Homo sapiens: one gene and its partners. The protein of the gene in region 2 interacts with the protein of the main gene of each other region in a biochemical or structural test. Each region holds a gene or a part of one and is shown on either strand. Other genes may lie near its edges.

Region 1 (8,201 bases), on a different chromosome or scaffold from region 2:
TGTACAGAGTATTAATTTTACAAAATGGAAGAGGTTATGGCTTATAATTATACAGTTTATGTTCTAAAAGTTAGCAATCTTATGTAGAAAGAACAATAATAAAAATTCATGGTAAATACCTGTCTTTTCCCATTTCTGGCCCAATCTCATGTATAATAAAGTTAGGCACCAATATAGGTTTTGCCTTGTATGTGAGTGTATATGCCTACTACTCCTATAATTCTAACTTTTCCAATAAGCTTTAAATAAATGAAAACCAACTTATGATACTGGTTAAAAAGAGGAATGTAATAGTACAGATTTATGAAGAGAGTTTAAGAAAGGCATTATCTTACTTTTGTTGGGATTTTTTTAAAGATGTGTACTCTTTGAGCAGTAATTTTACAATTTCTTTCTAAATGAAAAACACATCGTTGACTCAGTAACTTCACTTCCAAGACATTTTACCAACAACTGCCACCAATTGCTTATATGGACAATAACATGATTAGGATGTTCACTGCTCTAGTTTGTAATAACGAAAGATTGGAAACAACCTAAACTTCCAGGAACTTGTGAAATGGTTACATTAATGATGATAGTACAGTAAAATCCAATGCACACTTTTTAAAAATGAGGTAGAGCTATAGGTGCTGCTATGAGACAATTTTTTAATCTCCAAAATGTACTGTTAAATGAAAAAGGAAAGGTACAAAATGATGTATATGGTATGTTTCCACTTTATTTTTTAAGTAGGGAGGTATACATACAAATATTTACTAATATGTGAATATTTCAATAAGACAAAGACATCCTTTTGTAGATCCCACAACTGGCAAGTCAATTAGGGAGATTGCAGGAAAGTATTTGAACAACTTCAAGGAATCCTTGGTTTTTGCCTCAACCTTCAAAACTTCTTTAGTTTTCATGAAAAGGGATAGGCACATTTTCACCTCCAGGAGTTAGAAACCATGTTTCTTACCACCTTAGCATCCTCAGTCATGTTATTTCCTCAGCCTACATCCTTTGCTAGATTATTCCTCAGCACGTAGCTCAGATATCACTTCCTGCTAGACGTTTTCTGAGTTTCTCTTAAATCCCAGACTAGATCTGGCCCCTTTGTTGTAAAATGCTGTTCATTGTTCTTGTGACATTTACCAAAATTTCTAGCAAATAGTTATATAGTTAATTAATTGATATCTGTTTCCCTGAGAGAACATAACATCTTTGAGTGATAGGATCTTGAATGTATAGTAATTAGTTTATTTCCATATCCTCAAGCACAATGTGTAGTACATACTGAGCACTCCATTAATATTTGTTGAAAGCTGTTATATATGCTGAATGATCAATTGACATGAGTTTTAGTTCTGGATTGGCCAACAATGTGACCTTAGTCAAGTAGTTAATTAATTTTTAGGTTCTTTACAGGTCAAAACCTTTAATCTATGAGTTTAGGCGCAAATGAAACTGAAAACATGTCACTAGGAATTGTGGTTAATTTGCTACTGGATTTTAGGTAATCTCTTAAACCTGTGGTTTCATTTATTTCAGCTCTCAAATGGGGGGCTAAACAAAAAGAACATCAAAAGAACATTCTCATTTTTCCAACAACCCTTCTTTTACCATATTTTAACTTGTGACAATAAATTCCATGCCTCTAATCCTTCAGAATTCATTCTCTCTCTCTCTCTGTCTCTGTCTTTCTCTCTCCTCTCCAGCCCCCAACACACACAAACTCACACACACTGAACTTTCCATAATTTAACTCTGGAGAGAGTTAAGGTTTTCGCTCTAAGTGAAAGTATTCTTATTCAACACTGCTTGAGCCTCTCAAAAGGCCGTATGTTTTGCCCAAGGATCTAGAAGGTGAAAATTGTTAATACAGGGTCAAAGTTTCCGCGATAAGCGTCTTTGCTGTTGTCACACCCTTGACTACAACCGTATCCTAGCCATACTGTTGGTGGCCACATCAGGTCGCCTTTTCTGACTGATACAACTTAGTTTGCATGTACAGAAGAATGCTGGGGCTTCCTTCAACATCCCTGGTTTTTTTAAGAAAAAAATTGGTAGTGTGATTACTGAGAAATCTCATAGAAGAACAGAATGGGAGTTGTACAATTTGCTGCAAAAGGAATTCATGCTCATACTGAAATAGTTCTTCCCTAAATAACCCCGTAGCTAAGTGTAGCTCCCAGGTGAATTTCAAACAAAATTATTCCCTTGGCATCTGAGGTCAATTTAGTTTCCATTCCAAACCATAGGATCCTCAATGTTTCATATCCACAACATTCTGGAATTCTAGAGGCTACAACCTCACATCTTTCTTTCTTATACCTGACATGAAAGGGGCATATAACCCATTAATGATATTTCACTGTAGCTGATAATTAAATTTAAATGGGTTAAAAATATGCACTTGGTTAGGATGAAGAGTGCATTTATCACAGTGAAGTACTCCAAGACATAAAGACAAGTTACAAATTATTGTGGAGCCTGTATGATATGTTATGCAAAATGCACTTCTGAAAATGAAAAAGGATGCCATTAATAATTGTACCAGCTCATGAGGCATAAACCAGGACAGTCTTAGGTATACCAAGATGAATGAATGGTCAACCTACTAATAATATGCATATTAAGCAAGATAGCACCAAAAGATATACAAGAAAGAAAATAAATGTCTATAATAGGTAACACACAAGTTGACAACAAATGACACCATAGGTGTCACCTGGGGAATGGTTAGCTGATTGTACCACAAACAAGCTGAATTTGGAAGGGTTCAATGTGTAGGTTTCAACCCTGAAAACTTAGAAGCTTCTTTTGGCTGCTTACCAAACATTTTCCCATCTTTTAAAGATGAATTCTCACTAACCAAACTCATAAACCAGCTTATTGGTATACATAAGAGCAATTATTGCCAAGGGAATACAATGCTTCTCTTCCAGCTAGTGCATCCTCTGACTGTAAACTGGCTATATAAGAAGTCACATTGGGCTCGGTGCAGTGGCTCATGCCTGTAATCCCAGCACTTTGGGAGGCCGCGGCATGTAGATCACCTGAGGCCAGGAGTTCCAGACCAGCCTGGCCAACATGGTGAAACCCAGTCTCTACTAAAAATACACAAAATTAGCTGGGCGAGCTGGTGGGCACCTGTAATTCCAGCTACTTGGAAGGCTGAGGCAGGAGAATCGCTTGAACTCGGGAGGCAGAGGTTGCAGTGAGCAGAGATCGCACCATTGCACTCCAGCCTGGGTAACAAGAGCGAGACACCGTCTCAAAAACAAAAACAAAAACAAAAAACAAGCATCACATTATAATTAGAAGATTTCTTAGTGACCATGAAATTCCACCATGGGAAAGTTTACTATATGACTTGAATATTCAGAGCATTACGTTCTTTTTTAAGAAAAAAAGAAAATAGAGACAGAGTTACACAATATTGGCCAGGCTGGTCTCGAACTCTTGGCCTCAGGTGATCCGCCCGCCTCGGCCTCCCAAAGTGCTAGGATTATAGGTATGAGCCACTGAGCCTGGCCCCAGAATTAGGTTCTTATAATGAGTTTTATCTATCTCAACAAAAAGCTATACCTGCTAAGGAGACTGGGCAAGTCATGTCTGCCAGTTAGAGGGGCCACTTACTTTCACCATAAAAGAAAGTGTTTGGATTCATTAAGTATAATAGCTTCAATAACCACATTTGGCCCAACTCCTCTACTTTTTCTGTGTTTCTCCAATGACCAAAGTCTTTTTCATCCTTAATCACAGGTCCTTTACGAATATACATGTTCTTTTCTTTTTGTTTTTCATTAATACTACTAAAGTGCCATCAGGTCTTGATAGCCTGTCCCACTCTGTTCTTTCATGATGGTTTTATTTTCCAGTTCAATTCTCAGTGAGGAATATTATATCCTCAACTCCCAAACTCCTTGAGAAAATTTCTTAGTAATGCATGAATGTCAGGTGCTGCCATATGGAGTTTAATTCTCCACATATGCATTGCTTCTACTGTATTTAATGCAAAGAAAAAATGTGAAGCAGCTTCTAGGTGTCAAGCTCTTAACTAGACTTGAGGATACATAGACAAAGATGATATTTGGTATTCAAAAAATTTATGTTCAACTGAAAAAAGTCACCAATATCATAATACAATGTGGTAAAAACTACAGCAAAGACAAGTACAGGGAAAAGGAAAAGGGAAAAGTTAAGACTCACTTTAGTCATTATCAACATTCCAATGTTGATTTTGCACCAAAGGCAAGTAAGTACAGGAAAGTTTTTTTTTCTTCATTCACAGTTCAAATAAGGTAATCTAGACTCTCTCTAAAACTATACAGATGGAGAGGATAAAAATCTACTTATATCAATTTCTAAGGTGAAAGTATCTTTGAGATTTATCTCCCTCAAGAAAACATTGTGTTGGAGTGCTGGTTGATATCTTAATCTACAAATTCAGTTAACTTCTCTAGTGAAATCATCATAATAAGTTAAAATAATCAAAAATAAAGTCTTTTTTAATTACAAGTTCCAATCTTCCTAACATTTATGGATTTGATATTACTGGTTTTCACTGTTTACTGTAACCCCATAATCCATTATAAGTAGTAATTTTTTTTTCTAAAAGCAGGTGTGTGAAAATCCTACTGGAGAGTCAACCTACCTGGCTGCTAACCCAACTCATAACATGAAAAGGGTATTGCTTTATTATTCATTTATTCATGGAAACTCATATGATGTAATAAAAAACTTGCTTAAGAAAAAGGGCCAGGTGAGGGTAAAATTTTTCTAAAACTTGAAATGTGATTTTGCAGAGCTAAACAAATTATTCATAGTGGAAGTGTCATTGAGCAAAGGCCAGAAGACTACAGCAATTGCCATGGTCATAGTATGTTTTCCTGTGAATGAACATCAAGGGTCTATAATATTTATAGGATTTGAGAAGATTGCAAAGGTTTAGTTTCATCTCATAGATGTTTTTAGTCTTACTTGGGCCAAGATTTTGCATCAGTTCCTTAAGTGATACAGAAAAGAGCTAAAACAATAATAACAGTAATAGAGAAGCAAATCAGAGAAGCTGGACAGCTGTCTAATTTCTGATTAACCTATTCCCCAGCAGTTTAGTTTCATTGTGTTGAAGTACTATGAATTCTTAGACCAGACAAGTATAGACATGTTCATTGAAGTACCTCAACTCAAAGTCAAATTAAGTAATCCTTTGGTTAGAAGATGTTTTGGATTGTGCGCAACTCTGATTTCCCCTTCAATGGAATGGATAATTGAGAACTGACTGGATAAATAAGAGAGGAAGCATTAAAAGCTAATTTCATTCTTGGAACATAGACTACAGTAATGGGCTATGATAATAGGTTAGCATAAAACAATTACTGAATACCATACCACATTTGGAACTAGGCCTATCTGAAATATATAAGGTATTCTATTCAATAATAAGGGAGAAAAGAGAATGTAAAATTTATTATTTAAGCAGAGAAATTAGCTGCATGAAAATATCAGTAACTCCAAAAATATGGTAATGACTTACGTACTATAGGGACACTATAATAATTGTAGGATTTAGATTTAACCTTACCAAACAGCCTGCAATATTCTCTTCCTGAATATAGAATATCTATTTTAGTCTTGAATTTACTCTCCACAAGGAAAGGAAAATTCTACCCTAATAAAAAAAGTAATCAAAAGTATAAATGGATTTTTTTCCATTTCTTATTGAAAATAAACTGAGTTGAAATCCAAAAGTAATAACCAAATAAATGTTATCACCCACCACACCCAAGAAACCATTCTTTAGTATTCCAGTAAGTTAGTTCATTCTTCATATGTCACATACATGTGTCACACACATAATGTGTAAGAAATGAGATTAGCCTCTGTGAATACTTAACAATGAAGAATAAAATTAACACATTGTGAGAAATTGCATTTAAGTTTCTATGTATACATTGAGACAGAGACATATTCTTCTATCATAGCTATACCTAAGTGGATCTTCTGCATATCTGGGCTATAAATTGCATGTGTCTACTTGAGTGAATACCTTCAGGGAGCTAGAACTCTTTGATGGTGTTTTATGCTAAATAAATGGCCAGAACAGAAAGAAGTGTGTTTGGAATTGTAAAACATGGTGATTATAAAGCATTTAAAATACTATCTGACAAACTGCTGCCATCTTACACCAAGTAATATTGACAACTTAGGTGGTACTAAGTTTTACAAAGGCCCACGGTTAGTGGCATGAAAATTTGACGGAGAAAAAGAAAAAAGAGAAAAAAAAAAAGAAACATCTTTCCATTATTTTAATAAAATGATAAAAGTGATAATTAAGTGGAATAAATTAAAGAATGTTATTCTATTAACAATATAATAAAAGCCTTAATTAATATAGCACGTTTTACTTAAAAAATTTGAAATGCTGAGCAAGGGAATTACTAATCTCAACACAATCAGAACCACACATTGCACAGAAAGAAATTCACAGATGGGAAATAAAAAAGAGCAGAAAAATAATTTTCCCAAGGTCACAACATTCTTACATGACATAGTTAGAAACTGAACACATGAATACTGACTACAATATACAATTTTTCTAATAACACAAGACTATTTAATTAATTTTCTTCTTTTTGATAAGTCAATGGTAGACATGCATTTTCATCTGAATGTCTATTAAAAAAGATAAGCTAGTTTGAATTTTTTACAAAGTCAGAAAAGGTTTGGAATCTGGTAAGACAAGATATTTTGGATTTCTACAAGTTTTAAAACAATAGAAAAATATTAGTATTTTCTATTTCCTTCTGTCTTGCATTTACAACCATGTTGCAAATCAACTTTTTGAGCAACTTTAGGATGTACAATATGAGGCTTTGTCATATGAATATTTAAGCATAAACCATAATTTACATCTCATTCTAGGTACTATGTATGCAGTTTATATAGGAACAGGTTTGCAGGAGAGATGAGTTACACTAGCAGGGCTTTCTGAGGCCTACTATCCTTTCTTACTTTTGGGTCCTCTTTTCCCAGGAGAGTGGAAGGCTAATTTCTCTCCTTCACGCTTTTTTTTTTCCCTACTAAGGCTGGAAAGAGTAAGCATAGATGTTATCATGAATTTTTAAAGGTAGAAAAAAAAAGGAAATTAGAAATTGGGGTCTACTGATACTTTTCTAATAATACAATTTATATGAATTTTGTCTAGACTGAGATCCTTAGAAAAATAGTGTTGAAAAATGACTCTGCCTGCCTAAATTGGTTTTTTACCTTAAGACTTCAGAAACAAAGAGTTTTTGAGCTGGGAGACATTTCAGAGAGTAGGCCTCTAGTCTGTCTTTTTATTTTGTATGAGAAAACTGAAGCTCAAAAAGGTTAAATGACTTGCTCAAGTGCCTGAAGGTAGATGTCCTGAAGAAAGCCTAGAAAAGCAATTTACTGCAAATAATGCTCCATTAAATTGTAAATTGCTATTGGATTAAATAAATCCTTAAGGAAAAAATATATATATATTGGCTGTTAAACAGTTTTTAGTTTTTAAATTAATCAATTTCAATAGTCCTACATCAATAGTCTTTGAAAGGACATTATTTGAGTTGATGCTTTCCCAAGTCCTGTTGAGATCAATTGATATGTTTCAAACATAATATCCCACTGAAGAAAGCTTTATGTGTGCTTATGTCTTAGAATGAATCTTATATCAGTGAGATCAGTGAGTAGTTATGAAAAATCCCATAGAGGGGTTCATACAGATGACCCAAGTGAAGAAAGAGTTAACTGCAGCGCCCCATCTCCTTGTAAATAATCCAGAAAAGCATTCTTTTTTTAAGCAATACAAAATGTCACCACAGGCTGACGCTCTTTCTACAAGAATAACGAGAATATTGCTATCTCGGATGTTGAACACACACTTCATTGCCTTCATCTCTGAATTCAGTTTTCGTGGTTCATATATTTTTCTCCTCCTTTCAAAACAGGTAACGTGGCACGCCTAAAATATATCAATGACTTTGTAGCGACTACAAGCCGAAAGACCCGGGGAAGCAGTTTCACAAACTCGAGTTTTTGACCTCTACAACTGGACATACACTATTAAAACTGCTCCGGAAATGAAGAGTGGCCGGCAGGGAAGGCAGTTACCCCGCTCAAATGAAGCCGGCCTTTGGCACCGCGCCCCCACCGGGCTCTGCTATGCAGAGGGCTCCGAAGAAGGC
Region 2 (7,873 bases):
GAAGAAGAATCCCAGCTTCAGAACTCCCCCTAGGGTAGGGTAAGTTATTGCTGCTCAACTTCTCCCTCAACTCAATCATGTCTTTCCCATCCCCACATGTATTGATTGCAAGTACACTCCCTCACAAGCTTCTTGAGATCTAATCTCTCTGCTTCCTGGGAGACCCAACCTGTGACAATTACTGATTTAACAGATTTGAAAAGATAGTATTGTATAAAATAATATTTTGGGCAAGGCGGGTGGATCACGATGTCAGGAGTTCAACACCAGCCTAGCCAAGATGGTGAAACCCTGTCTCTACTAAAAATACAAAAATTAGCCGGGCATGGTGGCAGGTGCCTGTAATCCCAGCTACTCAGGAGGCTGAGGCAGAGAATTGCTTGAACCTGGGAGGTGGAGGTTGCCGTGAGCTGAGGTCGCACCACTGCACTCCATCCTGGGCGACAGAGTCAGATTCTGTCTCAAAAAAGAAAAAAAAATGTTGGTCTTCTATAAGATGAAGTGGTTTTGCCACATCCTAGTTTTGGAATTTTATTAATCTTTGGGCTTGCTGCTAATAAGGGTAGAAAGGCATGGGCAAGAATGTTGACGATGGGAACAATTAAATTTTGAAAGCCGACTATATAAGATACCTTTTTCTCCATAAGAGATTTCATAAAAACCAGGGAGATGGTCCTATATTGGTATCAAATTACTGATTTGAAAGCAGTGAACTATAGAAGGAGAAAATAGGATTAAAAAGCCGTCAAGAAATATACCAGAATCCTAACAATAATTGTCTATGGGTCATAGGTCATCTATAGGTTAACTTTTTCTTAATGCTATTCTGATTTCCTGAACATGTTATATTTCCTTAAGAAAATGAGAGAATAATTTTCTTGAAACAGCTGATTTTTATGAAATTCTGGAAGAGATAATTTTGTGGTAATATTTACTTTCTCCTTAAGAAAAATATTTTAACAAGTATAGGAAACCTTGAGGCCCCAATGCAGTATTAATATTGCTACATATTTTTTCCATTGTGCATTATCTAGAATAAACCACTCCAATTAAATGACATATTGAGACAGGTAATTCACTGTAATATTTATTAAGTAGATGACTTACAAGAGGGATATTGATGAATGTAAAAATTTTCACTCACAGTGAACATGAAACCTTTACACATGTAAGGTTTAGATTCTTTTTTTTTTTTTAATCTGCCCCTTTCAGATTATATCATGGTATATGAAGCACTGGTGAGGTCTATGTCACCAGAAATTCCCAGTTTGCTGATTTCATTGAGTTTTTTAACCCGATGATTGTACTGCAACAAGTGAGCATCATTCACTGCAACCTTGAAGTGGTCAGGTTCAACCAGTACTTGTATCTGAAATGGCATATACATAAACTGTTACATGAGGTAATGCATATGTCAGCTGGATTTAGGCATTCCACAATATATACATATTTCATCTGCACTATAGAAACAATTTTTTGTCAACTGAAATAAAGGGAAAAAATGTCCATTAATTTCAAACCAGTCTGGCCTGAGCCCAGGATGTCCAACATTTCATCCTTATCATTTGTGGGACCAGTTAAGATCCAGAGAAAGTAACTTTACAGCAAAAATGCCAAGTTATGCTGGGCGGGGTGGCTCACGCCTGTAATCCCAGCACTTTGGGAGGCTGAGGCGGGTGGATCACAAGGTCAGGAGATCGAGACCATCCTGGCTAACACAGTGAAACCCCATCTCTACTGAAAATACAAAAAATTAGCTGATTGTGGTGGCGGGCACCTTGTAGTCCCAGCTACTTGGGAGGCTGAGGCAGGAGAATGGCATGAACCCAGGAGGCGGAGCTTGAAGTTAGCCGAGATAGTGCCACTGCACTCCAGCCTGGGCGAAAGAGTGAGACTCCGTCTCAAAAAAACAAAAAGCAACAACAAAAAAATTCCAAGTTATTCAGGTTTTTTTTTTAAAGCAGCAAATTTATTAGAAGGATACATAAGTGAAGCCATAAAGGTGGAGGCTAAAGATTTGCCTGCATAAAAACTTAAAAGAGCCTGGGTGTGGTGGCTCACGCCTGTAATCCCAACACTTTGGGAGGCAAAGGCGGGCGGATCTTGAGCCCAGGAGTTTGAGACCAGCCCAGGCAACATGGTGAAATCCCATCTCTACAAGAAAAATACAAAAATTAGCCACACGTGGGTGGCATACATCTGTGGTCTCCGCTACTAAGGAGGCTCAAGTGGGAGGATCGTTTGAGCCTGGGAGGTTGACAGGCTGCAATGAGCTGTGACCATGCCACTGTACTCCAGCCTGAGTGACAGTGTGAGACCCTGTCTCAAAACAACCAAAAGTTCTGATATGGTCTAAAACACCTAAAAGAAAAACACGAAAATAGGATTCCTCTGGCAAATGTTGTAAGGATTGATGATAATCAGTTTTGGCAAGGGTAGGAGAAATCTACTCTTCCCAATAGTGGATGTTCATTCCTATATCTTTTTGGAAGCAGCAATTTGACAATATCTAAATTGTAAACATGTATATTTAAAGCAAAGATTTCTAGAAGACTTGCTTCTAGGAAGCAAAGATTTCTAGAAGACTTGCTTCTAGGAAGCAAAGATTTCTAGAAGACTTGCTTCTAGGAAGCAAAGATTTGTAAGGATAGTTATTACAGTATTTTAGTAAAATCTTTCCAGGTTGGAGTGTTTCTATTCTGTAAATTTTCATCAGTAGGGTACTGGTTAAATTATCACATATCTAAAAATGAAATACTACTGGCCAGGCATGGTGGCTCATGCCTGTAATCCTCCCAGCACTTTGGGAAGCTGAGGTGGGCGGATCACGAGGTCAAGAGATCAAGACCATCCTGGCCAACATGGTGAAACCCCGTCTCTACAGAAAATACAAAAGTTAGCTGGGCATGGTAGCGCACGCCTATAATCCCAGCTACTTGGGAGGCTGAGGCAGGAGCATCGCTTGAACCCAGGAGGCGGAGGTTGTAGTGAGCCAAGATCGTGCCACTGTACTCCAGCCTGGCGACAGAGCGAGACTCTGTCTCGAAAAAAAAAAAAAGTGCTATTAAGTAACAATATTCTGATACGAAAAGATATCCACCAAATGTAGACTGTGGTCCTTATTTGTCCCTGTTGTTGAAGAGTTTACACTCCAGCTGTTTTATTCACCACTCTATAGTCAACCCTAAATGCTGTGGATCTAATTTGTTGAAGCAGTGCTTACAAATAAAAAGCGTGCTGTATGTCAGAAAATACTGGGAAGATACTCATCGAATTGCAACTTTGTGAGGATGGGGGAAGGAGTAAAAGATAGGAAACTTTGTTAATTTAAAAATTTATAAACTTTTCATAAAACTTTAATTTTAGAATAAAAAACCTTTAGTTTTCATCTCTCTGCCAACTGTGTTTTAAGCAACAAAGTCGCAGTATAACTGTACCATAAAGACTTTTTGCCTTTTTTGTTAAAGATTATATTCTTTTCATTTCTAGAAAGGCTTAAACTCAGAGGGGTGGCAGCAGTGATGATGGAGAGGTGCCTGAAAGGAACTGGGGAGTGTGCCACTCCTGGCCATGTTCTCAGCCTGCTGAGCCTGGTCCCCTGGGCAGGGAGAAGATAAACTGGTTAGGCACCTTAGGAGAGGTGATAAAAACTCTCACTTCAAGTGCTTTGGGGTTTTAGAGTGATTCCTCATGAGAAATATACATTATCAATATATAATAGTAGCAATAACTTACTTTGAATGGTTTCCCACTTTCAAATGGGAAAACCGACTGTCTTTCTTCCCTTCCCCAGTTATTATCCAGCTTTGTATTGCAAACAATGACTCTCCTGTTGTTCTCATTGAAGCGTGGGTTAAAGTGGAAGGCAACATCATTCCCTCTTTGGAAATCTAAAGCAATTCTGTTTTAAACCAAAGACCAGTTATTAAAATGATTAAAGCTGTACATTTGCACTGTGTAAAGAACATGTAATTTTCTAAAAAGCAAATAATTTCATAATACAGTACCTAGGAAATTTTTCTGAATGGAAAGCAAATAAATCAGAATGGGTTCAAACTGGAAAATATCCTATGCCTGATATTCTATGTACTATCACAAAATCTAAAGGTAAGCAAGACAATAGATGTTGAATTTTTTGCCTCATTGTCTTCGATCATATTTCCATTCATCTGTAATGCCCCTACAGACTCATGAAAACCCTTCGAGGTTTTCTTACAGAGGTTTAGAGCCACTCTGAGGACACTTTATCCCTTACTATAGATAATGGTTATCTCTTTCCTGCTCTTCCAGTTTGCTTTCAATACCTGGTAAAGGCAAGCCAGCTATATAGTTAACAGCCATCAAATACCTGGCTTCCTCATAATTAACCAGAAGCCCTAGTTCCTCTAAAACAGCAAGAATGAGATAAGGTAGTTAATATTCAGTATCTTGTTGCTAAGTTGTAAAGTCATGATAGTAAATGTGGTAAACATTCTATGATGTGAGCCAGAACCAATGAAATTGCTAGTTTAGCTTTTTGACCCTGTTCCTTCTCCCTGGAGGTTAATGCAAACACAAGTCCTCTTTGACTAACCCCATCCCTGAGTTTCTCAAAGTGCGCTCTATAGAGCGGTAACACCAGAGTCATCAGTAGGTATTCGTATTTTAATCTGCACTCTAGACCAACTAACAAAGATTGTCTGTGTATTTTGATTCACCCAGTAACAGTCACATTCAACCACAAATGATCTTCCAGTGATTAAATTTGTAAGGAAAAAACAGCATAGAATTTGTATTTGACTAAATATACAATGTTGTCATCTCTGTCACCTTAAGCACTTTTTTTTTCTACACAGTTCGTCATATAGAATTTGCAGGACTAAGCAACAGTTTTTTTTAAGTTTACTACCATTAACCATTTCAACCAGAATTAGTTTTGATCTGCCAGTCTCAATCTACATCTCTAGCATTATTAGAACTAAACTTTCCAGTGAAATGACTCTAACAAGACAAGGATACCAAACTGGGTATTCAGTGTGCGTTAGGGGTTGTGGGAGGAGGAGAGCAGATATTTAATAAATCATGAGTGCTGTGTGCACAGGATAAGGTGTGCTGGGTTCTATGTGATGTTGGGAGGAAATACGGATAAGGACATAGGTAGAGGATGTATATATTTTGTAATTTGCTATGAGACGGGCATTATTGTACGGGGAAGTTCTGTGCTTACAGAAATTGTCTAGGCTGTGTGGAAAGATGGGTTGGCTTAGGATAGTGACTACCATTGCAGAAGCAGAGGAGGCTGGCTGAGGTGGAGGGAATGAGCATTTGAATGTGAAATTATCAGATCAGAAGTGAAGTCCATCTCTTGATTGCAGGATGTGGAGCAAGGTGACAGACACTGAGACTGTTTATGGATTCTTGCATAAACCTGTGTACATGGCTTGAATTTGTGCCATTTAGGTACTGTCCATAAGACCTAGAGACAGTTCCACTAACCTTAGGGGCAGGCATCTCAGATGGTTTCAGGACATGGCCAGCTTCCTTGTATGATATGTAAGTACTACATAACCAGTGGTGACAACCAGGGCCAAGCAGCCCAGGACAGCCATAATTAGCATGTATTTTCCTAAATAAAGCCTCACCCCATCCTAGCCCACCTCATCAATCAAACTACTTCCAATAGTAAAGGTTGATTTATAATGATGAAGTTTTTAACTTGTAGAATCTCTTCAAACCCATAAGCAAATAGTATCTGCTCAAAAGACGGGTTCCCAGGCCTGCCACTGATCATCTGTAGAACCTGAACCTCAGTTTTGTCTATAAAAAGGGGAGAGCAATATTCCTTATCCTGCCTTCAGCCATGAAGATTAGCTGACATAATACATATCAAAGTATAGAATAAGGTGTGTTACCGTTTACTATGAGTGCCATGATGCTTAGCAAAATTATATGGGAATATGTATGGATTTATGGGATAATCCTATATGATGGTATAGCCAAGATTCTAAATATGTAGTTTTTAAAATTTTACTAAAATTCAAAATAGCACTGTAAGACAGGGCAAGAAGAAAAAAAGTAGGCCATTCTTTATTCAAAAACCAATCTACAAATAGAGTAGACTTGTTAATTTTGCTCTCCTTACCTGTTTGCATTGGGCTTCACCGTGCCCAGAATTGTTATCAGCATGCGAGGCACCACTCCCCCAGGCAAAGGCAGGTTATAAGGCACAATCTGGGAATTAACAAGTACATATGTGTCAATAAGGAGTCATGTTTCTTTGGGGAAAAAACGATGTTGCTAAAGTTCCATCACTATTAATATGTGTGAAAAACACATAACTCTAGTATATGCCATCTGTCCAGACTCTCAGGCCACTTTGCCCAGGGGCCAAAGAGATAAGGCTCCCTAGATGTACAAATAATTGAAAAGAAAGCCATCAGTAAATCTCATTACTACGGCCATCCCAATTTGTACTCATTCATGTTGACTATTTTTGGAAAGGCTTAAGCTAGATCTTGTGATCAACATTAACATTTTTGTATCACTCTTAAGGCCCTGTCATGGTACATGCTTTACTGTGGATATTCTGCTTCCTGGGGGCAAGCAGCATATCACATTCTGGGCTTGTGGGTTCTCATATGCTTTGTACTCACATGGCTCCAGCAGAGTGCTTTGCATATGGCAGATACTCAATATTTATGGAATGAACACTGTTAACACTGTGAGGTTCATTCCACAAATGTTTATTGACCAACTACATTCAAGGTACTGTGAATATCCCCAAAGCTCTATTTATTTATGGCCTCTTTTCTTTCCCTTTTTAAGACTTCCCCCTGGGTTTAACTATCACCCAAACCTTTTTATTTTTTGAGACAAGGTCTCAAAAATCCGAGTCTCAGTTGTTGAGGATGGAGTGCAGTGGTGTGATCATAGCTCACTGCAGCCTCAACCTCTTGGACTCAAGTGATCCTCCTGCCTCAGCCTCCCACAGTGGTGGGATTACAGGCATGAGCCACCACACCCAGCCTATCCAAATATTTTCTTTCTAGTCCTGGTGTGTACTAGTCCTGTACTTCCTCCCACCTAGATTTGCTGCTAGTGCCTCAAATTCAACAAGTGTGAACTAGAATGGTCTTCCCTACCCCCTCCCCCATCAGTTCCCCTTCATGAGTTCCCAGTTTGGGCTAAAGCTTTGCTGATGGCTCTAGTTGCTCAGCCTTGAAAAGTCAGAGTCCTCTATGACTCCTAAGACATAATCAGTAGATTCTGGGGGTTCTTCCTCTGTAATCTCTCTTACATCTGCCTGTTCCTTTCCACAGCCTTCATGTCTCCCTCTCTCTGCAACTGACTAACCATCTCTGGTATAGGCCCTCTCAATGCCACCCACTCCCCCAAGTCTTTCTACTCTAAACTGACCTAAAAGGAGACAATGCTACCTTGTGCTGTCTTCTGCATAGTCCTGAAATGGTCTAATCCCATACTGGTACTTAGCTCTTTCCTCATATTTATTATATGTTTTATCATCCAACTAGATTATAAATCTGGAAAGGAAGGATCCTGTGGCTGAGATGTATCTGGATCCCCCATGGAGTTATGTTTTACACTTAGAATTCACTTGCTATGACATATTTTAATTTGCGTGAAAATTCAACCCTTAGATCACAAAATTATCTTTAGAAGGTTTTTCAAAACCAGATTACCCTGGTTCCTCTACATGTTTGCTCAATGACCCTGGACAAATTATATCACTTCTCTATTGCCCCATTTCCCCATGTGTGAAATGGGGTTATTAACAGTATCTTATAGCGTGGTAATGGGGTTAAATGAGATTATCCATGTAGATGCATACTATTGACATGTACTCCGTAAGTGTTAATAATAACCAAAATGTTCT
Region 3 (6,581 bases), on a different chromosome or scaffold from region 2:
AAAATTACCATGCCTTTGTTACTTTAATGAAGAGTCAGGCTAACCTGGGCTCACAATTCACTTATCGATACCATTGTTGAGAAATGCCACATGTACTTCTGACTTTATCTGCATCACTGTGCAAAATACGTTTTTACTACTTGGCAAACAGGAAAAATTTACAATGAAATTAGAGTACTCAGAAATACTTAAAACAACTTAAGACTAGGCAGCTATGAAATTAAGAACAAAGATTTTTTTTCCCATTTATAAACACTTATTTTAAAACTTTCTACAAGAAAAATCTGTGATTTTTAACTTAGTTCTTGTATTTCTTCAAACGAAGGGAGAAAGATAATTTTGAAAAGAACTATTACATATTGTTAAAAATTATTGCTTTCAGTCACAGTGAGAGGGAACCAAAAATTAATAGACACCATAATGAGGCCGGGCATGGTGGCTCACACCTATAATCCTAGCACTTTGGGAGGTAAAGTGGGCAGATCGCCTGAGCCCAGGGCTTCGGGATCCGCCTGGGCAACATAGTGAAACCCTGTCTCTACCAAAAATACAAAAAATAACCAGGGCGTGGTGGTGCGTGACTGTAGTCCCAGCTACTCAGGAGGCTGAGGTGGAAGGATGAACCCTGGAGATGGAGGTTGCAGTGAGCCGAGATCGTGCCATTGCACTCCAGCTTGGGTGACAGAGACAAACCCTGTCTCAAAACAAACAAACAAACAAACAAACAAACAAACAAAAAAGCCCAACACCATAATGGATTACCCCTTACATGCTAGAAATGAGTGAAGCTATTCAAAAAACTCGTTTAACTTTTAAAAAACTACATCAGCTAATTTTATTATAATTATTTTTTACAATTAATAAACTGATTCCCACATAATTCAGTTTGTTTGATAAAGACTAATATGTAGCAACACTAGAATTACAATAAAATCCTAAATATATGTGTGTATTATATATAGAAGGCAGAATTGAAGTCATTTTGACAGTAGTATCTGAGATCTAAAAAATGAGAATTTAGTAAATCCAATCCTAGTTTCCCTGAAGGCACAACCTGTTCCATGAGACATTAACAGAGTTTATGTTTTTCAATAATTTGTAGAACAAGTACTTATTAGATCAAGACACTTAGATAGATGCTTTATACTTCAGGAATTTATTTTTTCACAATGATCCAAAGTATTAGATGAAGGTTTTTTGTTTTATTTTGCTTTTAATTGACAAATAATAAATATACATATTTATGTGGTACAGTGTGATGTTTTGATACATGTATACATTGCGTAATAACCGAACCAGGGTAATTAGCATATCCATCACCTCAAATATGTGTCATTTCTTTGTGTTGAGAACTTTCAAAATCCTCTCTTCTAGCTATTTCAAAATATATGCAATAGGTTATTGTTAACTCTAGTCACCCTACTATGCAATAAAACATTAGCACTTATTTAATGTGAAGTTTTTAATACAAAAATTATTTTAAGAAAATAAGCACAGGCTGGGCGCCGTGGCTCACGCCTGTAATCCCAGCACTTTGGGAGGCCGAGGCGGGTGGATCACCTGAGGTCAGAGGTTCTAGACGAGCCTAACCAACATGGGGAAACCCCGTCTCTACTGAAAATACAAATTTAGCCAGGGGTGGTGGTGGGCACCTGTAATCCCAGCTACTTGGGAGGCTGAGGCAGGAGAATTGCTTGAATCTGAGAGGTGGAGGTTGCAGTGAACCGAGATCGTGCCATTGCACTCCAGCCTGGGGAACAAGAGCAAAACTTCATCTCAAAAAAAAAAAAAAAGAAAAAAGAAAAGAAAAGGAAATAAGCACAGCCATTTAAGTATGTTATTCACAGTTACACTGCTGGTATATGGAGAGACAGGAGTTGAACTGAGATCCTCTAGATACAAAACCTCTATACTTAAGAGTATACCATTTATGATATTTTCTCTTTAACTCACAAATAAGGGCATCGAGGGTAAACTGACACAGGGCTAAGGACTCATTCATTGGTGAACAATTATCACACGATGATATAGAAAGGCTGTTGAAAAGCTTTTCTTCATCTTCTTAGTCAGTGTCAGAGGCAATTGGGTGATAAATATCTGGCAGAAGTAATACCTAAATAGCGGTCTCATTTTATGAGGTATAGGTCAGTTTTCCTTAGGAGTACGGAAAATGATGAAAAAAATTGCTATCAAATGTCAATAAAATATTGGGGACAATATGGCACAAGGCAATTATTACATTTTACTGATGAGTGAAGGACGTTCAAATAGAAAGAAGGGAGACAGCAAGGAAAAGATGGTTAAAATGATGCAAATGAGTTCAGGTGTATGAGATGCACCTGGACAAGAGGTGCTGTACAGAAGGGGCTGAGTGTGTAAGAAGGTTCAAGAGCTTGGTGAGCACAGAGTCATGGGGACTCCACATTTTCTAGGATTTAAATATGGAAATACAGGCTGAGAAAAAGAACAGTGAGAAAACTTATAGATGAGAAATCCATGGTTTGTGATATTGAAGAATGAGACAGTGCAAGCCTCATAGTCTAGGAAAACTCCAACACGATCAGGACAAATAATCACAGAGAGGGGCACAATGAAAGGAACAGAAGGAGTATGGAAGGAACTATCCTGGAAAGCACTACATTTAACTCCTTCCTCTAACCCTATAACCCAGTAGCCGTATTTAGGTTGATAATTTTCATTTTTTTCAATATTACACATTGCATCAGGTTGGAAGCCAGCACATACCCCCAGGATCCAAGCAGTTTTCTTGGACACGTCTACCTCCCAGTAATGTTTCCCTGATGTGATACTTTGAGAGCCCAGGATGCCAGTACAATAATTGAAATTCACAAATGTCTGGTATCTTGTCCCTCGTGCCCCATATATTATCTGTGGTTTCGGAGAGCTCACTTGTCTCTTATCTTCAGAAATGACAGCACATGAAATGTTGTTTGGAGCCACTGTCACATCAACTGTAGAAAAATTAACAGGTCAGCTAAGGGATATAATGTAACTTTATTTGTGATATGAGAGAAATCTTGATAAAGACTTGAGAGAAAACTGGGAGGAACCTTGTTTAGAAGTTATAAGGAGGGGTAAGTTATGTGTGTCTTGGAAGGAGAATCATAAATCTTAAAACATGAGCCTAATAGAGAACATAAAATTCTAAAAGATAAAGATAATAATAATGATAAGCCGCAGGGTGGCTTATGATAATGTGACTTCTCCTTACCCCAGTAGCGTCGGACATCTGTCAGCTCTGAAATGATAAAAATGCACAATATTGAATACAAACAAAGGAGTCAGCACTGAAATTCATTTTCTCTCCAGATTAGGGAAAGAGTAGGTATGCCCTATGGTAGGGCAGTAAATTGCTGAATGATGAGATGAAACAGCCACCTAGCCATTTCCCATTAAATATAATCCCATCAGCAGCAGACAATATCTATCCTCCCCTATCCCCTCTATCCATATTTGGAAACTGCACCCTCTTCCCTATTTAGCACCCTAACACCACTTGAATTCCATAACCCTGTTGTTGATCTAGCTCTCCTCACCTCTAAACACTTCTAGCATTCCTTTCAGATCAGGAGCTCGAAACACTCTCCTTTGATTTTTTGGAAAAGTTTCTGGCTTCTTCAAGGTCACGTTCTCCGTCCTAAGAATTAAAAAAAAAAAAAAAAACTTCCAAACCTTTGACCTTGTGTCCGTGGAACACCCCTGACTTCCTATCATTTCAACCCATTGAGGCACTTGAACTCTCTTCTTGGGGATCCTGAGAAGGGAGAGTGCAAACTCTTGACCCTGGAGGCAAACAAAATGTTCTCATGTTTGCCTTCCCACTTACTTTCTGTGAGAACGTGGGAAGATCTTAACCTCTCAGAAGCACAGTTTCTTCCTTCTAAAATGAAATAATTAACCTCTCCCTGTCTACATTCTTAAACTCATAGGACATAAAAAAAAAAAAAAGGATTTTAAAACAAAACAAAACAAAACTTTGGTGCCTTACAAAAGAAACCCTAACATTTAATGGGTGGAAACATCATCGCTATGTATGTTGAGTTCCCAGGGAGATGGTTAGAAAGTGAGGTTGCAGAACCTGGCTCCTGGGTGTTTGACACATATCAAGAGAGGAATCCTGTTTGGAGAGGCCTAAGACCTTCAAAGCTATTCCCAGCAGGGAGGTACTCAGATAACATCTAAGGTTTCAGATTTCCGGGAAAAATTACAAACACTTGGCAAATGAGAAATTATGTGCACTAAACTATTACTGGCCTGAATATCGTGTGGTTAGAAAGAACTTGATACCACCACGTAGGTGTGCGAGGTGTGCGATTTTAGACACAAGAATAGCACCTTTTTATGCTCTTGTAAAGAATGCAACTGAGGTGGATCAATTCTTTGTACCATGACCACATATTATCCAGAATATTATTTTGAAATATTATTCCGGAAATAAACATCTGATTTTGGAAATCTAAATATAAATGAAGAGGAACTGGTCTTTTTCCAGGAGGAAAATATAAACATGTGGGAATTGTCCCAATGGACAATTAGGGGTATATAAGAGAAAAAGAAGATATGGCCCATCCAAAATAAATCAAGAACCTATTAAATACAGAAAGAGAACTAGATGTAGGTAATAAAATGGTGATGGCGCAGGGGTCCAACACTGCAACACCTTCTCCCTGAAACCACTACTGACCCACACTCCGAGTCTCCACCACCCAAATTTTCTACCATAGAATCTGGTCTATTCCTTTTCTTTTTTTTAATTTTATTTAATTTTATTGATTTTTCTAAGACAGAGTCTCACTTTGTCGCCCAGACTGGAGTGCAGTGGCATGGTCTTGGCTCACTGCAACCTCTGCCTCCTGGATTCAAGCAATTCTCCTGCCTCAGCCTCCCGAATAGCTGGGATTACAGGCACGGGCCACCACGCCCCCCTAATTTTTGTATTTTTTTGATAGAGACAGGGTTTTGCCACGTTGGCCAGGCTAGTCTCAAACTCCTGATCTTCCTGACTCGGCGTCCCAAAGTGCTGGGATTATAGGCTTGAGCCACCACACCTGGCCAAATCTGGTCTATTCTTAATAGTTATAGAACATTCGAATGCTGATTTATGACCAGAAATTTATGATAAAACAATATCGAAATTTTTCTGCCCTGGGAGATGTTTTATTCTAATTAAACCCAGGACAATTCTAATGGCTATAAATCTCTCCTCACTGCACAAAAGGACCATCTCTGTCCTCCCACACATACCTTTTTATGACGCCATCCACACCCTAGGAAGAAGAGAGAAAACATCAATTAAGAAAGAAAGAGTCTCTCCTCACTTATAAAGCTTCATCACATTTCCCCCGGTTCCTAATGTGCTGAGAATGGAGATGGTGACAGTGTGAAAGACAAAAAAGCAAAGATAAGACTCAAGGCAATCATCCCAGAAGACTCATGTGAGATTTCCAAGTTCCCTTAAAAGTAGAAATAGCTTTCATCCCTGTGGAAGAGGCTCCTGGTTTCTGCAGATGGGACATGTTTAGAAGGAAAAGAAGTGACTGACAATTTGTTTTTCTCCAAACGTATATGGCTCTCCATGAAATGATTTAAATAATTAGTGCTTCTTTGATTTATTAAACAGATGTACAGCCTAGGCAACATAGCATGACCGCATCTCTACAAAAAATAAAATAAAAAAAAATTAGCCAAGCATGGTGGCATGAGCCTGTAGTTCCAACTACTTGGGAAGATGAGGTGGGAGAATTTGAGCCCAGAAGTTTGACTGAGGCTGCACTGAGCTAGGATCACACTACTGCACTCCAGTCTGGGTTTCAGAGTAAGACCCCACTTCTAAACAAAAAGAAAATCACAAAAATAAACAAGAAAACATATATATATAAACTTATTCTCCAGGCATTATGTCACATTTTGAAGAATCAAAGATGAATGAATAATAGTGCTCAAGATGTTTACGCGGCCTTTGCTGAGGGTATAAGCAAACAAGTGTACTAAACAAGTATAGATATTTTTCTTTCTTTCTTTTTTTTTAAGAAGGAGTCTCACTTTGTTGCCCAGGAGTGCAGTGGCGTGATCTCGGGTCACTGCAACCTCCGCCTCCCGGGTTCAAGCCATTCTCCTGCCTCAACCTCCCGAGTAGCTGGGATTACTGGCGCCCACCATAATGCCCGGCTATTTTTTGTATTTTTAGTAGAAATGGGGTTTCACCATGTTGGTCAGGCTGGTCTTGAACTCCTGACCTCAAGTGATCCACCTGCCTTGGCCTCCCAAAGTGCTGAGATTACAGGCATGTGCCACGACACCCGGCCTACGTACTTCTTAAGGTTGCTCTCTTTTCATTTTAGACATTAACTGTAACTGACTTCATTCACTTCCTTAAGTTTGACACACATATGTGCAACTGATTTCCAATTCCCTACTTTTACCCAACTTTGTCACTTAAATGCAGTTTAATACATTCAGTAGTGAAGGAGCAACAAGGACCAACAACTAAGAATTTTTATTATGTAACACCAACCATACTGTCTTCTCTCTTATACCACATTGTCCATAATATTACTAAT
Region 4 (8,201 bases), on a different chromosome or scaffold from region 2:
CTGTCCCCAACCCACTCCTCCCGCCCCCGGCCAAAAAAAAAAAAAAAACAATTGAAGTCCTTATAATGCCTCACAGGGCCTTCCTTACATATAATTCTCTATTAACCTCTGATTTCAGCTCCTATTACTCTGTCCTTCGCTTATTCTACTCCAGTCAAGAGGCCTATTTTCCTGTTCCTCAAACATACCAGGCATGCTGCCCTAGGGTTTTTGCTATAACATTTCCTCAACTACAATGTTCTTCTCCCAGTTACGGCCTGAACGAATTCCTTCAACTTTTTACTTGAATCTTTGCTCAAATCTCACCTTCCCTCAATAATGCTTACCCTGACTACTCTACTTATTAATGCAATCTGCTGTACAAACATAAACATGTAGTTGCAGAATTCTTTTTTGATTAGCTCTCAGAACTTTCTAACATATAGTATAATTAACTTACTTAGATATGGTTATGGTTTATTGCCTGTCTTCTTGCTAGAATGCTAATTTCACAAGATTATGGCTTTTTGCTTATTGTGTTCACTGATATATTTTAAATACATGGCATATGTTAGCTACTCAATACATATTTGCTAAATGAATAAATATTCAGCATCCAGTATCATGCCAAGAACTTTAGATGATGCATAATTTGTTTAGAGTGGATGGATGATTAAATTATGTTCTCAGAAGTGAAGATCAATTTGTGATGTTCCATCCATTCCTCTGTTCAATTTTCTCTGTAGTGGGAACTTTAAAGAACATTGGTTAGTATTCTGTAGTTATAAAATAGAACAAAACTAATAGGTCCATATGAAAAATGAATCCAAGACCTTGATTTTTTTGCATTAACATAGATAATACTGTATCATTAAAAATTACCAGTTGATATGGTTTGGCTCCGTGTCCTCACCCAAATCTCATCTCGAATTGTAATCCCCACATGTCAAGGGAGGGACATGATTGGATTATTGGGGCAGTTTCCCTCATGCTGTTCTCATGATAGTGATTAATCATGACATCTGATGGTTTTAAAGTGTGGCACCTCTCCTTTGCTCTCTCTTTCTCTCCTGCCGTCCTGTAAACAAGGTGCTTGCTTCCCCTTCGCCTTCCCCCATGATTGTCTAACTTTCCTGAAGCCTCCCCAGCCATGCAAACCTGTAAATTAAGCCCCTTTCCTTTATAAATTACCCAGTCTCAGGTAGTATCTGTAAAGCAGTGTGAAAATGGACTAATATACCAGTCATTTTGGCACAACACTTCAGAAACTCTAAAATACTTAAATATTTCAGTAACTATGAACAAACTTTTTCATAAAATAAATATGAAAATACTTTTAAGTGTTCAAGTAAATATGATTTAGGACATGACTCCACTCTGATTTTGCTATGTAGCTTCATTATCCGCCATGAGTTAAACATGTATTTATTAAGCTCTTTCTATCTAGATGCAAAGAATTTAGTGACACAAAGATGAACAAGATGCATCAAAGATGAACAAGGTCAGCATCTAAAACACATAGGCATATTGTGTCATTCAAGGTCAAATCGGAAGACACAAATCACACCATTACTTGAATAGAAAGAACTTAAAATAAAAACTGTTAACTAGGTGTAGTTATTAACTAGGTAGCTAAAAGGTTAAAAGGAACTCTGAGGTATTAAGGAGGTAGCAATTGTATGAAATAACATAGCTACCACTTCCAGTGCTAAAGGAATAAAAGGAAGAAGTTAGAATTATTAAAACTTAGAAACTTGCAGGAGTGGCTCATGGAGCTGAAACTCAAACCTCCGAGAAGGGTGGTCTCCTCACATGAGTAACTATGCCCCCTCTTGACAGTACCTAACATGGGCCCAGCTGGCAACACAATTATGAGGTCTGTAGAGTTCTAGCCCTAGTATCACAAAATAGAGGATAGAAGAGTAGGTTTGGAGCTGAAAATCAACTTAATAAATAGCATACATATCAACTGTTACAATTCAGTGTGGTAAGGACTAAATGATAACCCAAGACTGATGAGGCTATAGACTGGCCACTCTCATGTAAGTGTAATCACATATTTAAGAGAAAAAGCTCTACAATGGTACAAGGCTTAGCCTACAATGATTTGAAATCAACACAATTATTAGCAATATATCAGTGAAGATAACACAGACTGCAGCTTTTCTGAAATTCCTAGGGCAATAGTTATTCTTATACCTCACACTTATGAAAACAGATCCAAAACACAAATGGGTAAAGCTGACATTTGTGTTAGAATAACTGAATCTCATTTATTTAAAAAAGTAAGTCATCTGCAAACTGGGTAACAAATTTCTTATGGTATCTCAACCATCACAAAACATACGTTTGCTCTAACAGTGAAGAACCACTGAATTATAGCAGACGTAGGCAGTACATGGTAGAGAGGCACTCAAAAAAAGACCAACAAATAGAAAGCTTCAAAGAAAGGCAAATATTTAAGCTGGACCTTGAAGGAGAAGGAAGATTTCCACTATTAGAAAAGAGAGATATATGCACTCCAAGCAGAAAAAAAAAAAAAACTACATATATGCTTGGCAAAGAAGAGTAAAAGGATTTGGCATAACTGAAGAATGGCAAGAAGTTAGAAGGCCTCAAGAACCCATGGCTTATGGTGGGAAAGGCACGTGAACGACACTGATAATTCCATACTAGTGAAATAATTCAAGGTTGCAGACCATTTCCTAAGCACAAAGTTACTGCATACAGCAGACACAAAATATTAATAAAACACACTAATGTATACCTCTGGTAATTATCTACTTAAACTTACAACTAAGTCCCTAACCACATTTAAACTACCTACCTGCTGCAAAGTCTTTTCACAGTGGAGGCAGGCTGCAGAAACCTCTGACAACAAAATAGTCATATCTTCTTGTTGCTGCCTGAGCCAAATCAATTTTTCACGAACATGAGCATCAACAACACTTAGAGCCATTTCTTCTTGACGACACAGAGTTTCATGTAGATCATAAAAATAAGCTCGAATACATGACCGGGCATTCTCTGCAGTCCCTGGTACCTAAGAAAATGAAAATAAATTTTAAGCAACTGTAATGTTAATAAAGATTTTACCTGTGAAATATTTAAAATTTCAGCCTAGGCAACATGGCAAAACTCTGTCTCTACAAAAAATGGAAAAAATTAGCCAGCCGTGGTGGCATGTGCCTGTAGTCCCAGCTACTCAGGAGGCTGAGGCGGGAGGATTGATTGAGCCCCAGAAGTCAAGGCTGCAGTGAGTGGTGATCACAACACTGCATGCCAGCCTGGGTGACCGAGCGAGACATTGTTTAAATACCATCTATATTAAATTCCAAAATATAAATCTCCATGCTAGATCTTTCCCCTAATGCACAGACATTGGAAATTCAACTGTTTATAAATGACATCTCAAGCAAAATGGAATGCCTAATCTCCAGTCTCCCCTATTCCCAAACCTAATTGCCTCTGTCTTGGTAAATGGCAACTCCATCCTTCAGGATGTTGAAGCAAAAACAACCGGAGTCATCATTATCAGCTCTCTTTCATAGCCCACTAGTCCCTCAGCAAATTCTGCTGACTTCAAAATACACCCAAAATCTGATCATGCCTCATCACCTCTAAGTTACCTATCCAATCAATATTAACAATTAATCACTAAGACCTATCTATTCTACTTATTTAAAATCTCAAATCCATTGACTTGTGTCCACTCTCACTACCCTAGTGTATTATAGGCCATAAACATCTCTAGTATTTTAACTAGAAAACTTTAACAACATCCTAATAGGTCTGCCTGCTTCCAATTTTGTTGCTCCTCCAATTCATTTTCTACATTTAAAACAACCTTTCTTGAGGAAAATCTGATTATATCATTCCTAAGTCAATTCTTCAATGGCTCATCACTGTCCTTAAACTAAGTTCTGAACTCTTTAACATGGCTGACAAGATCCTGCATGATTTGGCTTTGAACTCTCCATATCCTCTTTTCTTGTCATGTCCCATTCAATACTTAAAGCTCTAACTACAGTGAGCTTCTTTAAGTCTCTACAATATGTACAATCCTCACTTACAAACATTTTAACATATTGTTCCCTTCTTGGGACAACTCATTCCCCGTTCTGCTCTTTTCCCTGACTGAAATTCTTCAAATCTCAGTTTAAACACCATTTCTTCTATAAGGACTTCTCTGACCTCCATAAATCATTGTCCCTGTTTTGTGATGCCAAAGCACCCTGTACTTCTCCTCCATAAAATAGTTACCATATTTCAAACTCTCTCTTTTCCATGATGAATGAGTTCCTGAAAGACAGGGACTTTTAAAAAACTTTCTAATGATTGGTGCAATACTGGCAAATTGTAATTGCCCATTAATTACTTAGTAGAAGGTGAAAATATGAAAAATAAAAAAGAATGAGAAAGTGAAGAAGAAAAAAAATCCATACATGTTCTGTGTGAGCCATTCCAATTCCATCTTCCACGATTTGTTCTCCTCCTTCAATGTGCTGCACAATTCCAACTAATTTTCTGGAATAATCTGAGATTTCCTCTGTGAAGGTCCGTATGCAGTGAGCCATATCTAAAATTGATGCTCGGATCTGATTAGCTTCTGGTTCCAATACTGAATGCTATAAAATGTACCATAATTAGAGAAAAGAACTCATAGTATTGACTAATAATATAAAAAACTATTTAAATCCCTATTAATACAAAAAAGCATCAGCCACAAGTGACTTTTATGACACAGAAAAATACTAATTTACTTTCACTCCTTTATAAGAAAACTGTACTGCAAAGAAGTAATTTAAAATTTGGAAGTCCGTTTATTGCTAAACAAAAAACCAAGAGACTATCTCTAAAATCATATCCTAAGTAAGAGCTAACAGACATAAATATTGTCAAAACAATCTGGTGCATTATGAAAACATGCAAGCAAACAGAATGTTTGTTTCCTGCTCGAAAGCTATTTTTTTGTGAAGAATCATGATGCCTCTTTGAAGTTTTTTTTTTTTTATAACATTCAGAAATTAAATCTCTCATTTATTTTCATGCTACCAAACCCAATCACTCATCACTTAACTCTTCTTCAATCCCTACTTTCAGAATAAAGAACCAGGTCAGTGAAAACGAATACTGAGCTGGTAAAGTAGCTACAGTGATCCAACTGATTAATAATTAAATTCATACCTTGTGACCCTGGTGTTTTCCATATTCTTTGCAGACACAGCACATGAGTGGGCTAGTTTGACAACCTTCTTCCAAGCAAACAAACTCAATGGCATGCACCTGGTGCTGAGAGCACATAGTTTTCTCATGAGGTTTATCAGCTAGAGGAACTCGCCTGTGCTTTGCTAATGTCTTTGTAGAATGAGTAACTTGAGAACACTCAGAGCACAAATGAGTTGCACACACAGTGCAATATACAGAGGCAAGGTGAGCTTCATCTTCATCACAACGAATGATGCTCTGATAAACAAAAAATTAATGCCTTAAAATTGAACCCAATCAGTATAACATGACGAATTTTTAAATATAGAATCCATAATCCTTTTTGCTTAACTGAACAATATTTACATATGAAAATATATTGGTCATTAAGAACAAAGGTCATTCAATACTCATCTGAGAAGCATTCATTTCTAGGGGTAAGAAGCTATTTCCAAGATTAACTGGCCAATATATGTTATGAATTTGAAGCCAAAAATAGAACTATTCTCATAGATTCATATTCGGTGCAAAGATCTCTTCCACCAAATCCCCTCACTTTACACAAAAGAAACTAAACCATAGAGAAGTCAAAAGTCTTTCTGTAAAACTACAAAAATCTGATATTAAATACATCCCCATAGCTTTAAATATTAGTTGTCATGATGATGTATAGGAAGGACAGAAGCACAAATGCTATTTAGAAAATGTAGGAGTATGCATCAGAATTAGCTGTAAGCTTTTAAAAACATAGCTGTCTGGAAGAGAAATTCTTATTTCAACAGGTTGTGGATGAACCCTAGACTTGTATATATTTTTCTAATTATACGCCATGTTATTTTAATAGCTCCACAGGTGAGTCTATTGCACAATCACGGCAGAAAACCACTGATTTAAGCAAATAAAAAAAAAAATAGGCCAGGCTCAGTGGCTAACATCTGTAATCCCAGCACTTTAAGAAGGCTGAGGCAGGTGATCACTTGAGGCCAGGAGTAAGAGACCAGCCTGGCCAACATGGGGAAAGTCCATCTCTACTAAACATCCAAAAATTAGTCAGGTGTGGTGGTACATGCCTCTAATACCAGCTACTCAGGTAGCTGAGGCACGAGAATCACTTGAAGCCAGGAAGTGGAGGCTGCAGGGAACTGAGATCACGCCACTGCACTCCAGCAAGGGTGACAGAGTGAGACTCTGTCTTAAAAAATAACAATAAACAAATAAATAAAACCTATATGTAAGCATGTAAATATTATTTCTAGTTTTCAGGAATTACAAAAAATAACTAATTATGAAATAATTACTTTTATTTCAAGTAGATAAAAAATTACATGTCAGATAATCAAGAATGTTTTGAACACTTTTACTCAATATTAAAAGGCCATAATTGGAAGGGGAGAAATTTAGTATAAATTTTTTCAAAAATAAAAATGTTTAAATACATCAATGGTGTCATTCTTTATCACATTAAATAAAAAATGAATCCAAAGTGGAAGAGTTTTGTTTGCAATTATGAGAAATAAACACATGTACCATAAAAATTCAGGTCTTCTGTTTCCCAGACCTGACAAATAAATAAATTATAAACTATAATGTCAACATTAGCTAACAGTAATGTCTTTTGAAATAAAGATTAAAGATTTAGCACAGAAAGAACTGCATAACTTTTAGAAAACAGAGTGTTGCAGTTTGAAATTCATTTCACTGATTCACTTTAGTATAAAGAAATCATCATCTAATGAAAGAGAAGTGAAAGCAATCCGACATTTTTTTTCCTTCATACAAAATATGTGGTTTGCAAGTTGATCACCAAAATCATTAACTGATATTTACTCCAAATATATTTTTACCCATAACAGCCTACGAAAGCCATGTCCTATAGTACATATGTGCAGCTATGCAAACACATAAGTGCTAAAAATATACTTTTACATTATTAAAATCCAGTGTTCATGGATTCTGATATTTACTAGACATCTACCTGTATGGATAAAGACAGTACATCTATACAAAGTTTAACCTTTTCTTGAAGCTATAACAGTAACAATTCCCTCAGAAGTTACTGCTATCTTTAAGGCATTTTCCCCTCTGTATTAAATGGCCTCTTACATCGAGTTTTTCTTTCTCTCATTGAGTTTTACTGTTGACTACTTTTGCATCCTCTTCTCTACTGTTGCTTACATATCTTTCTTACTATTCCATAATCTTCTTCCTCTTTTCACTTTATTCTTGGTAGAACTGAATTATGATAAGGAAAAAAAAGTTCACACATAAAGCATAGTTTAGGCATAGGATTTTCAAATAATTCTAGTTTTTTCTCTTGGGAATAGTGTTGGCCTTCAGAACTGTAATGTAATGAAAAGTTGTGTTTCTAGAAATTTACCTGCTGAAATAAATGAAGTAATATTGTGCTAATAATGGCATCTATTAAAAGAAAAATTCATGCTCGTAACAAATATTTCACCAAGTATGATCAATACCTCTCCAGATATCCCAATGGATTCTTCTGCAGCTCCATACTGACCAATAGGCCCATTCTGCAGTCGTTCCAAAAGCTCCAATAAAGCAAAATTTTTTTTCAATCCCCAGACACCTGAATCACCTAGAATAAATATAAAAACAAAAACTAAATCTAACAAAATGGACTATTAATCATTTTACCCATACCTCAAAAGTAATTTCTAATATAGTTCAGTAGTTAATGTCTAAATTTTTAAAATTCAAATTTTCCCCATTTTTAATACCAAAATAATTGCTTTGTTAATGCTCTCTTAAAAAACAGAAGAATCCTTCAGCCTTCCAAGTAGAAACACACTTTAAAATTTATTATTTTTTGGCCAGGTGCTTTGGCCCACGCCTGTAATCCCAGCAGTTTGGGAGGCTGAGGCGGACAGATCACTTAAGGCCAGGAGTTCAAGACCAGCCCAGTCAACATGGTGAAATCCCGTCTCTACTAAAAATACAAAAATTAGCCAGGTGTGGCGTCAGGCGCCCATAATCCCAGCCACTCAGGAGGCTGA

The links.
Region 1: the proteins of LGALS3 (region 2) and ALCAM form a complex in vitro, tested with the Homo sapiens proteins (one study listed by IntAct).
Region 3: the proteins of LGALS3 (region 2) and TRIM5 form a complex in vitro, tested with the Homo sapiens proteins (one study listed by BioGRID).
Region 4: the proteins of LGALS3 (region 2) and TRIM23 form a complex in vitro, tested with the Homo sapiens proteins (one study listed by BioGRID).

Annotation. Positions count from the first base shown.
Region 1 is NC_000003.12:105,369,594-105,377,794, reverse strand, and holds part of ALCAM (CD166 antigen isoform 1 precursor), read right to left. Parts: intron 1-8,201. UniProt on the Homo sapiens protein: Cell adhesion molecule that mediates both heterotypic cell-cell contacts via its interaction with CD6, as well as homotypic cell-cell contacts. Promotes T-cell activation and proliferation via its interactions with CD6.
Region 2 is NC_000014.9:55,138,612-55,146,484, reverse strand, and holds the end of LGALS3 (galectin-3), read right to left. Parts: intron 6,211-7,873; coding exon 6,122-6,210; intron 3,902-6,121; coding exon 3,736-3,901; intron 1,370-3,735; coding exon 1,214-1,369; 3' UTR 1,062-1,213; downstream 1-1,061. UniProt on the Homo sapiens protein: Galactose-specific lectin which binds IgE. May mediate with the alpha-3, beta-1 integrin the stimulation by CSPG4 of endothelial cells migration.
Region 3 is NC_000011.10:5,662,424-5,669,004, forward strand, and holds the end of TRIM5 (tripartite motif-containing protein 5), read right to left. Parts: intron 5,677-6,581; coding exon of another isoform or gene 5,476-5,676; exon of another isoform or gene 5,295-5,475; intron 5,289-5,294; coding exon 5,266-5,288; intron 3,659-5,265; coding exon 3,558-3,658; intron 3,260-3,557; coding exon 3,233-3,259; coding exon of another isoform or gene 3,084-3,232; exon of another isoform or gene 2,973-3,083; coding exon 2,386-2,972; 3' UTR 1,751-2,385; coding exon of another isoform or gene 1,612-1,750; 3' UTR 772-1,611; downstream 1-771.
Region 4 is NC_000005.10:65,606,437-65,614,637, forward strand, and holds part of TRIM23 (E3 ubiquitin-protein ligase TRIM23), read right to left. Parts: intron 7,784-8,201; coding exon 7,662-7,783; intron 7,420-7,661; exon of another isoform or gene 7,291-7,419; intron 5,446-7,290; coding exon 5,167-5,445; intron 4,608-5,166; coding exon 4,425-4,607; intron 3,023-4,424; coding exon 2,807-3,022; intron 1-2,806.